Regions from separate parts of the Homo sapiens genome. Here all the other regions are linked to region 1. The links come from fine-mapping of genetic effects on gene expression. A gene starts in region 1. Each other region holds a variant in brackets. All regions are shown on one strand. Distances are between the middles of the regions. Region 1 holds the start of RHOXF1-AS1 (RHOXF1 antisense RNA 1). Region 2 overlaps TMEM255A (transmembrane protein 255A). Region 3 has its middle 20 kb from the start of RHOXF2.

What was found. PIP is the estimated chance that this variant, and not a neighbour inherited with it, causes the effect. A credible set is the group of variants that fine-mapping cannot tell apart.
Region 2: its variant is the best candidate, but not a certain one, in a credible set for the expression of RHOXF1-AS1 in testis (GTEx, PIP 0.89).
Region 3: its variant is the best candidate, but not a certain one, in a credible set for the expression of RHOXF1-AS1 in prostate (GTEx, PIP 0.53).

The regions. Positions count from the first base shown.
Region 1 is chrX:120,033,095-120,038,321 of GRCh38, forward strand. RHOXF1-AS1 (RHOXF1 antisense RNA 1) reads left to right here and starts at 3,142. Exons shown (of 5, transcript NR_131238.1): 1 at 3,142-3,438.
Region 2 is chrX:120,275,511-120,280,737 of GRCh38, forward strand. It overlaps TMEM255A (transmembrane protein 255A), which reads right to left. Exons shown (of 9, transcript NM_001104544.3): 7 at 1,375-1,537. Among named protein-coding and RNA genes, the nearest start is that of ZBTB33, 27 kb to the left of the region's middle. The variant G/A (reference allele first, on the strand shown) is at 2,777.
Region 3 is chrX:120,175,749-120,180,975 of GRCh38, forward strand. No RefSeq gene overlaps it. Among named protein-coding and RNA genes, the nearest start is that of RHOXF2, 20 kb to the left of the region's middle. The variant C/T (reference allele first, on the strand shown) is at 3,303.

The DNA of each region.
Region 1 (5,227 bases):
GTTCTTCAGTCACATGGAAAGCAGAACTTGAAAGTGATGAACTTGGATATTTGGCAGAAATTTACAGGCAAAATCCTTAAGATTTTTCTTTGTGAACCCCAAGATCTTTACCCTAAAATGGTTCTGTTGAATTTTACCCTGACAATGTAAATTGATAGCTTATCTTCATAACCTGGTTTCTCCTTGCTGCTTATAGTAAAATGTAATATTGATACAGACAGGAGACAGGGAAATACTGGGTAGAAGAGGGTGGTTTCCCAGCAAAGGCCCCACCCTCAAGTCTGGAAACCCGTGGCCCTAAATGGGAACAAGCGTTCCTGTTTTTGTGCCCAAATGCTGCCTTTTGGCCTGCCACGCCCCTGTATCCTGTACCTGTATAAACTCCAAACCCCAGGATCCACAAGCAGATGAGCAGACAAGCAGAAGAGCAGAGGAACAGAAGAGTGGTGTGGCAGAGAAGGAGAGAAGAGAAGGAGCTTCTGAACATCAAGAGGAGTTAGGCTGGGGACGGTAGGAGAGGAGATCAGCCAAGGGACGACTGAACTCCAGGGGAAGATTATCTTCCCACTCCATTCCCTTTCCAGCTCCCCATCCATCCTGCAGAGAGCCACCTCCATCCAGCAATAAAATACGCCACATTTACCATCCTTCAATTTGTCTGTGTGACCTGATTCTTCCTGGATGCTGGACAGGAACCCAGTACCAAGAGGGCACTGAGCTGTTTAACACTTAAGCTGTCCCTGGATGGCAGGGCTAAAGGAGCATTGTAACATCCCTGGATATTGCTGTAGGCCCAGAGCCCAAAAGTGCTTGCCCTAGCTCAAATGCGTGCTCCCCCTCCCATAAGGGGTTTGAGCATGCAGTGGCCAAACAGACGAGCCACACCCCTGTTGCAGGCCCTGCAAGGGGGGTCAGTGAACTCTCCCATTTCAATGTGAAAGATATAAATTGAGGAAAGAACTATTAGGCAAAAAGTAACTAGCACTTGATTTTGGAGGTTCTCAGCCTATCGTGATTCCAAAGGATGCCAAAATTAGAAAATTTATTGTCGCAAAAGCATACTCTGAAGAGAAGGCCAACAGTATGGCTGGACAATCTTGCTAAAGAGATTATATATGTGATTCATGGATCCAATCAACCATATCAGCTGAAGGCAGGAATAGAGATGGGTTTATCCAGGAAGGATCTTGTCTAATGACATGGACTCCCATAACACACACGAGACTGATAAGGATTTTGAGAATGTTATATCAACAGAAATACTGGCATCTTGGAGTAAAGGAGATAGATATGGGATGAAATGAAGGAAGACTGTTGGACTTCTGGAAATCTATAGGCAGGATATGAGCTGACAGGGCTACTAGACTGCAAAGACACATTAGCCTTCAAGAAAAAGGAAGAGTGAATTATGAGGGTGGCACAGAAGCTGGTGGATCACTGCAAGACCAGATGGCAGAACATTGAGCTAAAGAGGATTGTTCCTAGGCCTTGAAATCTAATGGAATTAGCTATGCTAATTATTTATTTATTTACTTTTTTGAGATGAAATCTCATTCTGTCACGCAGGCTGGAGTGCAGTGGTACAATCTCAGCTCACTGCAACCTCCACCTGCCAGGTTCAAGCAATTCTCCTGCCTCAGCTTCCTGAGTAGCTGGGATGACAGGAACTCACCACAATGCCCCTCTAATTTTTGTATTTTAGTAGAGACGAGGAGGGGGGTTTCACCATGTTACCCAGGCTGGTCTCGAACTCCTGACCTCAAGTGATCCACTCACCTCAGCATCACAAAGTGCTGGGATTATAGGCGTGAGCCACCACACCTGGCCCTGCCATGCTAAATTTTGAACTTACTTGGGACAAGAAACCACTTTATGCCTCCCATATTCATTCTTTTGGAATGGTAATGTCTTGTAAAAGGAAAATAAATCTCAGGACTCCAAAATCATTAAGCCAAAGGGAAAAGTCAAGCTGGGAACTGCATCAGGCAAACCTACCTCCCATTTTATTCTTAAATAAGATAGCTACAAACAAAAAAAAAAGCTACATACATGTCTCACAATTTGTCCACTGGGACATTCCTTTTGAGCCCCAAGATGTTTACCTTAAAATGGTTCTGTTGAATTTTACCCTGACAATGTAAATTGATAGCTTATCTTCACAGGTTCTAGACAAAGAACAGAACTCAAAGTCATCCTTCTGTTCATCTGAGACAGATGCATATCTGATTGCTTTCCTAATGTAAAAATGCAGATTCACTGAGCTGACAAAGGCATAAGTAACTATTCCTCTACCCTTCTCTCACATGTAAACTGTGTATTCAGTGAAAGGTTTATCAAACACTCAAAATAATGCAACCATTTGTCTGTTATCTACCCACACCTTTAATTTTTTTTCCTTTTCCCCCAATATCTGCCCTTTTGCCTTTAAATACTGAAGTCCACAAAATCTTCTTTGGAAAAAGGCATAGACCTGCCTTCCAGATGCATGTTCTTAACCTTGGTAAAATAAAATTTCCAAGTTAATTGAGACCTAGCTCAGATACTTTTTGGTTTACAAATTGGTAACCACCAAGGGATTCTGAGTGGAGGTGCCCCTGACCTTTGACAAATCTTCTATTACTGCTTGGTACCAGCTTGAGATATCTTTATTGCTCAAATCAATAGGCAGATTTGCTGAGGCCTGGGAACTTCCCCCCTCCAGACAATCCCTTGTAGCAGGACGAGCTGCAGACAAAATCTTTCAGACACTGAGTTGTAGAAGGAAGGGCTTTATTCAGCTGGGAGCATCGGCAAGCTACTGTCTTAAAATCCGAGCTCCTCGAGTGCACAGTTTCTGTCCTTTTTAAGGGCTCATAACACTAAAGATTTCACATGAAAGGGTCGTGATTGATTGAGCAATCTAGGGGGTATGTGACAGGGGCTTCATGCACCGGTAGTCAGAGTGAAACAGAACAGAGCAGGGAGTTTCACAGCGTTCTTCCATACAATGTCTGGAATCTATGGATAACATCGGTTGCTAAGTCATGAGTTGATTTTTAACTACTAGGTTTAGGCCAGGCAGGCCCAGGCCTGGTTTCAGTTCTGGTTTTGGGTCTGGTGCCTGGCTGCCTGCCCTTGGTTTCACTTCCTTGTTTTTTTCTTAAAACAGGTACTGAGTATAAAACAATATAAAACAATATGAGAGGGTCCGTCTCTTCCCTCACCCTGATCTCCCCAAATTTGGTCGATATCTAAGGTTTTTTTTTGCTGTACAACTCCTTTTCTGGAGTTTTACTCACTTTCAACAAGGAAGGTGAGTTTTCCTGCTTCCATGATGATGGAGGGCAGGCAACTCCTTTCTGGAGTTTCAGCTCAATTCCAACAGGGAAGGCGAGTTGGAGTTTTTTTCCTGCTTATAGGCTGGTAGAGAGCAGTGTTGAGCCTGGACTCCATTCCTAGGTAAGTAGCTGAATTGGGGTTTTATCTTGAAAATTCTCCTTAATGACCTAAAGTTAAGATTAACAACCAGCAGCTCTTAATTTCTCCTTACCATTAGAGTGCTCAGGAATTGTATACATAGTATGATCATTTGTTTGTTTTGCCAAACTGTTTTTTCATTTATTTGTTTGTTTTGTTGTTTTGGTCTTTTTCCCATTGGATTTGACTAACTCTACCCAACTATATCAAATGTGAAGGAAAGTTACAAATGGTGAGGAACAACGCCTCTGCATTGGGTAAATTCCTGCAGCTGGGGGGGAAAAGGGAAAAGGATAAACAGCCATCAACAGGAAAAAAGAAAGATTTTGACTACCTGAGGGGCTTTATTTACATAACAAGGCCACCTTTTGCTAGCCAAGCCAAACTGTGCTCCACACTGCAGTTCTGTAGCTAAGGTTTTGCCCTTTTTTCCACCACAACAGCCTGGGTTTGGTTCCTAAATCAAGTTCTTTCTGGTTTGATATTTGTGTTATTTTTGAAATATCAGCAATTTGTTCCAGCTAAAATAGGGTAGTGAGATTTAGAAGAATTTTTTAAGAGCTTAGTGGCTAAAAGTCAGTTTAATTAAAAGCTAATATCCACGATGTGTGTGTGTGTGTGTATATTTAAAAGGCCTTTATGGTTTTTTGTTTTGTTTTGTTTGTTTGAGAAGGAGTTTCACTCTTGTTGCCCAGGCTGGAGTGCAATGGTGCGATCTTGGCTCACTGCAACCTCTACCTCCCGGGTTCAAGCAATTCTCCTGCCTCGGCCTCCCAAATAGCTGGGATTACAGGCATACGACACCACACCCAGTTAATTTTGTATTTTTAGTAGAGATGGGATTTCTCCATGTTGGTCAGGCTGGTCTCAAACTCCCGACAACCTCAGGTAATCTGCCTTCCTCAGCCTCCCAAAATGCTGGGATTACAGGCGTAAGCCACCGTGCCTGGCCTGTTTTTTTTTTCTCTCCTAGTACCTTGTTTTTTGAGAAAAAGGTTTTTTCCTTCTCAGTCAGTCAAATGAATTCTGTTTTCTCCATTTACTTCTGCCTATCTCTCCTTTCTCTTGTTCCCCTCTGCTGCATGAGGGACCCAAAATAGTTTCTAACAGCCTGTAATTCCTTAAATAAAACAGAGAAGGCACTAGAGTCCTTTTTGAGGAGAAACATCTGTTTTTCCTTATGGAACCCCAAGAGTCTAAACAGACAAGTTCCTCTCAGATCTTAAACTGCTTGCTTTTGTACTGTGTTACCTGATTTTTGGACTAAGTTATTACAACAGAGGCTACTCTTCGGGTGTTTAAGATAAGAAAAGGTATACTTTAGACACTTAGAGGAAAGTCTTTGTAACAAAGTGCAGTGCAAATGCATCACATGGTCTAGAATCATGATAATTCTATCTTTTGGAGATCCAGGATTCAGCGTGGGCTCTGCCCAGAGCTGAGATCCAGTTAAAAGCTAGAGACTAGGCTGGGCACAGTGGCTCATGCCTGTAATCCCAGCACTTTGGGAGGCCAAGGTGGGCAGATCACGAGGTCAGGAGTTCAAGACCAACCTGGCCAACATGGTAAAACCCCATCTCTACTAAAAATACAAAAATTAGCGGGGCATGGTGGCAAGTGCCTGTAATCCCAGACACTTGGGAGGCTGAGGGCATGCCCAGCCGATGCTACACTTTTAAACAGCCAGATGTCATGATTACTCACTATCATTAGAACAAAACTAGAGGGGAAATCTGCCCCTATGATCTAATCGCCTCTCACCAGGCCCCAT
Region 2 (5,227 bases), 240 kb after region 1:
GTTCTGTTCTTCAGGGACCCCAAAATCTGACAGAAACAGCCAAGGGCCTAGGAGCTAATTTCTGGGGTCAAAGGAAAGTCCCTCTTAGGCACAAAATAATTCCATAAACAGATGTGGGATGTTCATTTAAAGCAGTGGTATTCAATCATGGCTGCAGATCAGAATTACCTGGGAGCTTAAAAAAAAAAAACCAAAAAACCAAAAAACAAAACCTGATGCCTGGGCTTCAGTTTAGACCAATTAAATCAGAATCTTTAGAGAAGGAGCCCAAGCATTTTTTTTTTTTTTTTTTTTTTTTTAGAGACAGGGTCTTACTCTGTCACCCAGGCTGGAGTGCAGTGGTGCAATCATGGCTTACTGCAACCTCAACCTCCTGGGCTCAAGTGATCCTCCCACTTCAGCCTCCCAAGTAGCTGGGACTACAGATATGTGCCACTACACCCAGCTAATTAAAAAAAGTTGTTTTTTCTTAATAGAGACAGGGGCTGTTGCTCAGCCTAGTCTCAAACCCCTGGGCTTAGTCAATCCTCCTGTCTTGGCCTCCCAAAGGGCTGAGATTACAAGCATGAGCCACCATGCTGGGCAGGTGATTCTTATATGAAGCCAGGTTGATAACCATAACTCAAAGCTATTATCTCCATAATTAGAGATCTAGATTTATCAAATAAACAAATAAATGCTTAGAAATGCCTTAGAAGGAAAGGAAAAAAAGAAGCCTACTATATGGAGTACCTACTGAATGCTGAGTCCTGCTGTGCCTTTGCAGACACACACACACAAATAGAAAAGATTTGGAAGGGAAGAATGGAAAGTGGGGAGGCTGAGGTTGAGGTCCAAGTTGAAGGCAAGACCTGGCAAGCAACTTAGCCTAGAGCTGGCTCTGCGAATGCAAACAGAAAAGAGCCCAGATGCTCTTTCTGAAGAAACTTCACTATGAAATACCTGGGGAGGGGAAGACTAGCATTAATCCTACCTATAGCTAGAATAACCTTTCCTTCCATCTCTCCCAAAGTTTGTTAGGGGAAAACTATTCCCAAAAAATTTTACTAAAAGTGTGGGGTGGGGCTATAAAAGACTATGTTTACATAACCAGTGCGAATGGGGGAACTGAGAACACCCCTTCCTCCTTTCACCCCCCACCCCTAGAAGGTGCCTCCAGAACACAGGTAATTTGTGTATAACAAGAAATATTTGCAGACTGATGACATTACCTGGCTCCTTCAACTTGAGACATTTGAAGGCAGCTACATCCTTGAAGCAATTGCTTCTGATTCTTCCCTTCAAAATATGTGTCTGCATTTCCCCCAACTGCCTAGCCTTCCCCCTATGTCCAACAGGGGCCACTGTGAAATGCAAAGTCAATTCTTTCCTTACCATGTCCTTAAAGCCTCCAAGGACAGCGGCAGTGATGATGCCCAGGAACAGGCCAACAATGTTGAGGATGGTGGCAGACCAGAGCAGGTGGTAGAGGTGGATGATATCTTGGCAACTGCTGACATCGATGTATTCGTAGTACCCACCAGTGATCTCCACCCGGCTGGACAGGGAGGAGCATGCTCCAGTCAGTCCCCAGGGAGCAGGCTGTCCTCCCCAGCCCCCTCCCCAACTCTGGGATTGGGCTACCATACAGCTCAGTGAAAAGACAGGTGGGCAGGTGGGGAGCTACAGTAAGAGACATCATAGCCATGTACTATAATAAATCAAAGTGTGATTGTTTATCCCCACTCCCCGAAAAAAAACTCCTACCTGCCAGAAAAATACTTGTAACCACCACTAACACTAATCCTAGATAGCACTTATTGACACTTGCTATGTACCAGGCACAGTGCTAAGCATTTCACATGTGTGAATTCATTGCATCTGTGCTGTTTAATGTGGTAGCTACTAGCCACATGTGGCTATTTAAATTTAAATTAAGTAAAATTAAGTAAAAAGAAAAATTCAGTTGGTAAGTCTCACCAGCCACATTTCAAGTGCTCAATAGTCACATGTGGCTAGTGTTTACTATACTGGACAGAGCAGGTTACAGAACATTTCCATCATTGCAGAAAGTTCTGCAAATCCTCACAGTATCCTATCAAATAGGGACTATCACCATGCACATTTTACAGATGAAGAAAGTGAAGCACAGAGAAGTTAAAGAACTTGCCCAAGTCGTAAGTGGTAGAACTGGGACCTGAATTCAGGCTTCAAAGACTTCAGTGTGTGCCCTCTCAAAACAAAACAAACAAAAAAACAAACAAATAAAAACCAATGTCCTGGTAAACAACTAAAGCTGAGTTGCTACACAAAACCTGAAAGTCGCCTCCGTGGGGAGGCCTTTCTTGACCACTCTGTCCAAAGACACCCCTTCCCAGCCCTGTCGCTCTCTATCACATTATCCGCTATGGAATGAATTTTGTCCCTCCAAATTCATGTGTTAAAGCCCTATCCCCCAATGTGACTGTATTTTTAGATAGGGCTTTTAGAAGATAATTAAAGTTAAATGAGGCCACAAGGGTGGGGTCCTAATCGGATAGGATTGGTGGCTTTATAAGAAAAGGAAGATCTCGCTCTCCTCCTCCTCCTCCTCTTTTTCCCTCCTTCTCCCCTGACTTCCCTACTCCACGCCCCTCCCCCACCCACCCCCGACCCCGACTTTCGTTCTCTCCCTCCCTACTTGAATGTGAAAGGAAAGGTCACTGTGAGCACAGAGGGGAAGTGGCACAAGCCAGGTAGAGAGCCCTCACCAGAGCTCGACCATGTTGGCACCCTGATCTTAGACTTCCAGCCTCCA[G/A]AAATGAGAGAAATAAGTACATTTCTATTGTTTAAGCCACCTGGTCTATGGTATCGTGTTATGGCAGCCCGAGCTAAGCAATACATCACCCTTTTCTAATTTCTCTGTAGCATTCATTCCCATATGAAAATAACTTACTGATGTGTCTACTACGTTATTGTCTGCCTCCCCAACTTGAACGTGAGCTCCATGAGGGCAGGAACTGGTTCATTTTGCTCACTGCTGTGCTTGACACACAGTTGGTGCTACATAAATACCTGTGGAATTAATTAAATGAAAGTTCCTGTCCTCCTGGATGTCACAAACTAGTTTACAACTTGGCCACTGGAGTTCATCACGAATCTAAAACACTTAAAGTCACAACGAAACGCCCTGGCATTAGGATGATTATTACATGTGACTCCCCTGCTATAAGAATGCAAAAAAGAAAACAGAAAAACAATCAAAGGCTGATCTCCAAAATGAATCAGAGAGGGACTATTCACATATGAAAAGACTTAAACTTTACAGATGAATTTATCTTCAGATTCTTTAAAGTCAGTGTTTCTCTAAGGAGGTGAAGTCAGTGTGGTTACAGGGCAGACTGCATCAGAATCATCTGTGTTTGTGTCTATGTGTGCCTGCCTGTTTGTATCAGTGCATTATTTGTGTGTGCCTGTGGGTGTCTCTGCGTGTATCTGTGCATGTATCTTTGAGAAAGAGAGATGGTTAAACATGCAGATTCCTAGGCCCAGCCCCAGTCCTACTGAATCTGGTAGAATCTCTGGTGATGGGGTCAAGAATCTGTGTTAACAAGTTCATCAATGTTTGAGACCCACTGTTTTTAATAGTAAGCTTCCGTAGTGGAATTTTTTAAAAAAATATTTTTTGTAGAGACAGAGTCTTACTATATTGGCCAGGCTGGTCTTGAACTCCTGGCATCAAGAGATACTCCCACATCAGCCTCCCAAAGTGCTGGGATTCCAGGTGTGAGCCACCACACTTGGCCCATAGTGGAATTTTAAGGGAGTTTCAATTAATCAGAGTTTGAATTGGATTTCAGTATTTTCAGGAGCATATCTCAAGAGCCCATGCATAAGCATACATTGTCTCCTATTAGCTGGCATTGTACTAGGCCCTGGGGACAGGGCAGGGAGGATGCACAGATTATTTACTGCCCCCAAAAACGGACAGCTGTACAAGGACTATTCTCTGAAAAGGACAGACCTGTGTGTATGGGTGAGTGTGGAACTGCAGGAGCACCTTTGTAGCTTGGGAGTCAACTTCTGACATCCCCCAAATTATGTTTGCCTGCCTCCTAAAACACCAAGGGTGGACTAGTAGTATATATAGGCAGGCAGTATGCCATAGCTGACTCTGAAGTCAGACTGTGTTCGAATCCTGGCTCTGTCATCTATGCTCTGTCACCAGATGCTGACTCTAGCAACTTACTTTCTTACTCTTAGGTTACTTACTTTACTTAACTTCTCTGAGCCCGGGGGATGTAATGCCAACAGGCATGAAAGCAGTACTCCAACATATAATAAAAGCCTCCACTAAAATATGTAGCTACATTTTGTTCCTTCTAAGAGCCAGCCTCTGGCAACACAATTCAAACCTTTGAACCCTGTTCTTAAAGGTATTAACACTTTATTTTGTTTTTTGTTTGTTTGGTTGGTTGGGTTTTTTCTTTTTCTTTTTTTTTCCTTCCTTCTTTTCTTTCCTTTTCTTTCTTTTTTTTTTTTTTTTTTTTTTTTGATGGGGTCTTGCTCTGTCACCCAGGCTGGAGTGCAGTGGTATGGTCATGGCTCACTGCAGCCTCAACCTCCTTGACTCAAGTGATCCTCCAACCTCAGCCTCCCAAGTAACTGGGACTGCAGGCTCACACTGCCATGCCCAGCTAAATTTTGTAGAGATGCGGTTCTGACATGTTGCCCAGGCTGGCCTCGAACTCCTAGGCTCAATCTATCCTCCCATTTCAGGCTCCCAAAGTCCTGGGATTACAGCCATGAGCCACTGTCCCTGGCCAGTATTAAGACTTTGTAGGCACAAACCGCAATATGGGAATAGGATAGTAGTTTGTTTTAAAATATTCAATAATTTTAGATAATATATACTTGGTTTCAGTTTGAGTGGTTCCAGCAGCCATTTAATTTTTTTTTTTCACTGAACCATGAAGGAAAAGAAAGCTAATTCTTAGATATGGTTCGGGTTTAGCAAATTAATGTGGTTTTTTTCTGCTTGAGATTCAGGATTCCATTTGGTTCAGTCTCTGGGCAGAGCTTCCTCTGAAATTGCACCTTTTGCATTCCCACTGCTCCCATCCTCATGCCTCCATCACTGTAAGGCTGTCCTGCCAGACCCCACTGCTGCCTGATTACTCTTCCTAAAACACTTTTAAAAATATGTCATTCACTTAATCAAAACCCTTCTGTGGCTCCCCAGTACCTTCAGGGGAGTGTTCAAATTCCT
Region 3 (5,227 bases), 140 kb after region 1:
TGCCTCTTCAGCATGTAACCACCACCTCATGAGCGAGGCAAGGAAAACTTGAGCCGCGGTTTCCTCAGTGTGTTGCATCTAAGGTAGAGCCTCCATTAAATAACTGGGGGACAGAGTCGGCAGATTAAATGAGCCACCATCACTCAGCTGTACTCACCTGATACTTAGCCTCAGAAACAAGTAGCTGGTGTCAGTATGAATGATGCTGAAGTGCTGCTCCTCTTGGGAAGAAAGTCCTCTGGCTGGGAGCCAGAGGGGAGAGGGAGCCCTATGCTCTTGTCTGCAGCAGTCTGAAGTAGAATCTCTGCCTTACTGATCTGGGAGGGGAAAAGGAAGAAGCTGTAGTGATTCAAATACCACAGACTTGCTTTTCTTATTGAATTTTTGTAGGTTCTCTTAGAAAGACGTTTCTTCATTTGCTGTTTTCCCTTAGGACCATTTCCAGGGGCTTTAAGTTGTTGTTTTAAAAATAATATTTACCACTTTCACTTGGGAGTGCATCAGCAGAGTTCCTCAAGCTGTCATGCTGGAAGTTGAACTCCGTGTTTGGTACTTTTTTCATTTGCACAGTGATCTTGTTTTTTCTATGCCTAGACAAGGTTATGAAGTGGTATTTTTTTTCTCACTTCGTCAAGATCACAGAGTGATTTTGTCTGGCAGTAGTGCTCTGTGAGACTGTTTATGTTCAACAGGAAAACATCAAGACCTAGTTGTGCGTACCAGGCCAGTGCTGGCTGTCAGGGACTGCGATATGGTTTGGATTTGTGTCCCTACCCAAATCTGATGTCGAATTGGAGGAGGGGCCTGATGGGAGGTGATTATATCATGGGGGAGGATTTCCCCATTGCTGTTCTCATGACAGTGAGTGAGTTCTCATAATATCTGATGGCTTAAAAGTGTGTGGCACTTTCCCCCTTAATTTTTTGCTCTCCTGTCACCATGAAAAGATATGCCTTGCTTCCCCTTCACCTTTTGCCATGATTGTAAGTTTCCTGAAGCCTCCCAGTCATGCTTCCCGTTAAGCCTGTGGAACTGTGAGTGAATTAAACCTTTTTTTCTTTATAAATTACCCAGTCTCAGGTAGTTCTTTATAGTATGAGAACGGACTAGTACAGACTGCTTATCACCTTCTCACAGTGTAGAACAATCACTTCGTAATTATTCTGTCTAAGGGGCAAGGAAGCTTGGGCATTTATCCACCAACTCCCAATAATCATTGGTTGAGGGCTGCTCCTGGGGGCATTTATTCCCCAGCCTTCCCTGTTCAGGCAGAGGGGCTTCAGACCCCAGAGGAAGCATCAAGCTGTTGCAAATTGGGCCAAGTACATATGGCTGAGATCTAGTAGGACACAGACAACATCTGCTATAGATGACCTGCCAAAGATCCTGAAAGGGCCAGGATTTGAGCTCAGTGTTATCTGATGACCATGTCTTAGCCACCACTTGATTTCGTGAATGGAGAGGTTTGAAAAGAACAGCAGAACTTTGCTAGAGGGGTTGTCAAGATTACTTGCCTGAACAGTTTCTCATGTATATATTACACAGACTGTTGGAGATACCTGCTCTGTTCCCAGCTCCTGGCTAGACGATGGGGTCACAAAGATGACCCAGGCATGTTTTCTGCTCTTATGGTACAATCTGTCTGTTGAGGGTGGGATATCTGAAGGGACAAGCCCACACTTCGTCCCCAGTCCCACCTGTGTTGGCTAGGGAGTCCTTCCTGGAGGATGTGTTGCGTAAACAATGGAGAGAATTTAGGGAACATCGAGCCTACTCTTTTCACTTTACAGATGAAGGAACACAGGCCCACAGCAAGGGAGTGGTCTGCAAAAGAGAACATATAGACTGCACCCTGGAGAAGGCCAGCTTCTAAGTGGCCATGCCCTTCCTTAGCTCCCCAGTCACCCAGATACAGGAAGTGCTCACTATATCAGATTCAGCTCCTCAGCACTTACCAAGTCCATCCTGCCCAGAATGCTTTCCTTCAAAGGCCTGCAGGCTCAAGGCTCTGTCTTAAGCCTGAGCCTTTTTACCTCTAAAGAAAGTAATCAACCTCCTCCAAAGGCATTCAGTGTCCTGGTATGGGAGAATATGTGTGTATACCAGGGTCTGGGAATTTTGAGAAACCATCTTAAGGTTTGGTGAGTTGCTTTTTCTCCTTATGTGAATTTATACAGTCCTCTATGGAGTTCTGGAGGGAAAATGAACCAAACAAAATATTTTTTTTGAGACAGGGTCTCACTCTATCTCTTAGGCTGGGGTGCAGTGGCACAATCTTGGCTCACTGTAGCCTTGACCTCACAGGCTCAGGTGATCCTTCCACCTCAGCCTCCTGAGTAGCTCGGACTACAGGCATGCAGCACCACACTCACCTAGTTTCTGTATTCTTTGTAGAGATAGGATTTTGCCATGTTGCCCAGGTTGATCTCAAACTCCTGGGCTCAAGTGATCCTCTTGCCTCTGCCTCCCAAAGTGCTGGGATTACAGGTGTGTGCTACTGCACCCAGCCGAAGATTTTTTTTAAAGTGAAAACAAAGTATGTTTTTATCTATTTCCAAACTATAGCATGAATTTCCCCAAGAAACTTTTAGCAGATGCTCTCCTCCCTTTTGCAAATATACTAAAACTATTTTATGAAAACAGTATTGGGAATATGGACCCAAAACACGGTTATCCTGATGTAGAGATTTGGCCAATGGTACATTTGAATTCCACTAAAATGAACTCTGTTATACTGACCTGCTTTTGACTATATCCTTTATACAGCACTGTAGAGGGCTTTCTGCAGGCCCAGAGCAATGGAGTGGCCTACGTAAGAGAACACACATAGCTCAGCTTAGAAGAGGCCAGCCGCTGAATGGCCATGCCCTCCCCTGGGCCAGAGATCATTCAATTAAGAGAAACACACACCAGCCCAAGTTCAGCTCTTCAGCACCTACCACATTATCTAGCCCAGAACTATTTCACTTAAAGGGTTGAAGATTCAAGTCCCTTCCCCAATCATGGCACTGGGCCATTTTACCTCTAGGAATAGTAAACAACCTCCCCTAAAGGCATTCAGTATCTTGGTGTCCATTCTTACAGGCCCTTGAGGGAGTGATACAACTTGTACCCTCCTCACAACTCTCATTTCTCCCAATCTTCTTGCAAATCTGTGCCTGAAGCTGGAAGCACAACACATGAACAATAACTAGCTTGGTGCTTGGTGTTGAATTAACTTTTTTAAGAAAGCAGGCTAACAGGTTGGAAATTGTTCTGTCAATATTTTAGAATCTAGTAATACAAAAGACCCCTTCTAAAAG[C/T]ACGTTCTGTTGTGTTACACAAGCAAGGGGACAAAGGTGATTTCAGAGGTAGCATTCAGGTGTGAGCATCATAATTGATACATTTGGACCCCTCTAAAGCACAGGCCACAGACAAAACTAGGGCCTCTATGAGAACTGCAGAGTTGGATTATGATTTTTTATTTCAAGCCGAAGAATCTTGGTTTAGGCAAAATAATGGAGGGAAGGCAGAGAACAAGGAAGAGTCTCTGTCCATTCCCTTTGAACGAGAGAAACAAAAAAATTAAACAAAGGATGTTTTAAAATCAAAAGGTGAAAGAGTCTGTGGAGACATAGGAGGAAAGAAATCCATGGCAATGGCTGAGCCTGGAGCTGTTGTTGAGGTGTGGGGAGCTTGACGATAAACAGCGGCTAGCAGCTAGGTACTGCCTCTGGAAGATAGCCAGTGGGGCACAAGGAGGTAGCTCTGGCCAGCTGGGCTTTACCATAAAAAAAAAAAGGAAAAATAGAACTCTGGTCCCTATATAAATCAGTCCCTAACATCTCCTTCCACAGCCCTCATCACGAGGCCAAGCAGTAAGACCAATTTCTCTTTACCTCTGATCCCTATCCTCCCTTTAACTCATCTGGTCACATTAAGGGGTTTCAGTGGGATTGAAATTATTTATAAGGAAGAAAGGAAAGTAAAGACTGAGTGGAGGTTTCACAATCTGATTTTCCCTGGCCCAGGTCCCCAACCCCAGCACCTCAAGGAGCACAAAATATGATTCTATTCATTTTAAGCACAAAGAATTTCCAAGGATTTCTCAGAAATTCCACAGGCCTACCCGCCACATCAAAAAGGTCAACTCCAAAAGTGAGTCCGACAGAAATATTGTAAGATGCTAAATCGTCTCTTCTATTTATTTAACATACAGACTTAGATTTAGGAGCCTCTTCTTGGCTCAACCCGTTAGGTGAACACATTCTATAGTATCAAAATTTTGCATAACTCTCCACTAAGTAAATGTTTAGTCCATTCATTCTGAACTGGAAGGAAGGAGACTAGCTGCCAGCTGTGATCCTAGTCAACATGCAGGATGTGATGAAATGAGGAAGTCTTCTTCATGGTCATCGAGTTACTGTCCAAGAGTAGCAACCACAGCCAACGACAGAGATCAAATTTCATTCATCTCACTCTGCTCCTTCTCACCATTCTTTCCCCTATGAACCATAGGAAAGACTCAATCCATAGGCAAAATAAAAATGATACTCTGAATAACTCTTTTAACACCCTCCTGATATTTAGGCACCATGCCCAAACTGTCTTGTTCCCTCTCACAATTGGTAGCATTCTAATATTGTACATCAATATCTCAGTTAAATAGAATAACACTAGGAGGGAACTTGAATTAATCATGATTGCATACTTATTGCAGGAAAAGATAAATAACCAAGAAAGCCACTTTTCCTCTGCTGAATCTTTTTCTTTGCTTAGCTGTTTTTTCCATATGTGTTGCTTTATATAACTATTTAGAGAAAGTCTCAGGGATCAGCACACATTCAATCTAATAGCCTAAGTGTTTTTCAGCTAACGCCATGGCAATAAAGTTTGCTCTTTGGAGTGATGGCTCTTAGACACTGTATTAGTCTGTTCTCACACTGCTATGAAGAAATGCCCAAGCCCGGGTAATTTATAAAGGAAGGAGGTTTAATTGACTCACTGTTCTGCATGGCTGGGGAGGCCTCAGGAAACTTACAATCGTGGCAGAAGGCAAAGGAGAAGCAGGCACTTTCTTCACAGGGCAGCAAGATGGAGGAAGTGCAAGCAGGGGAAATGCCAGATGTTTATAAAACCATCAGATCTTGCGAGACTCATTCACAATCATGAGGACGGAATGGGGGAAACCACCCCCGTGATCCAGTTACCTCCACCTGGTCCTGCCCTTGACACATTGGGATTATGG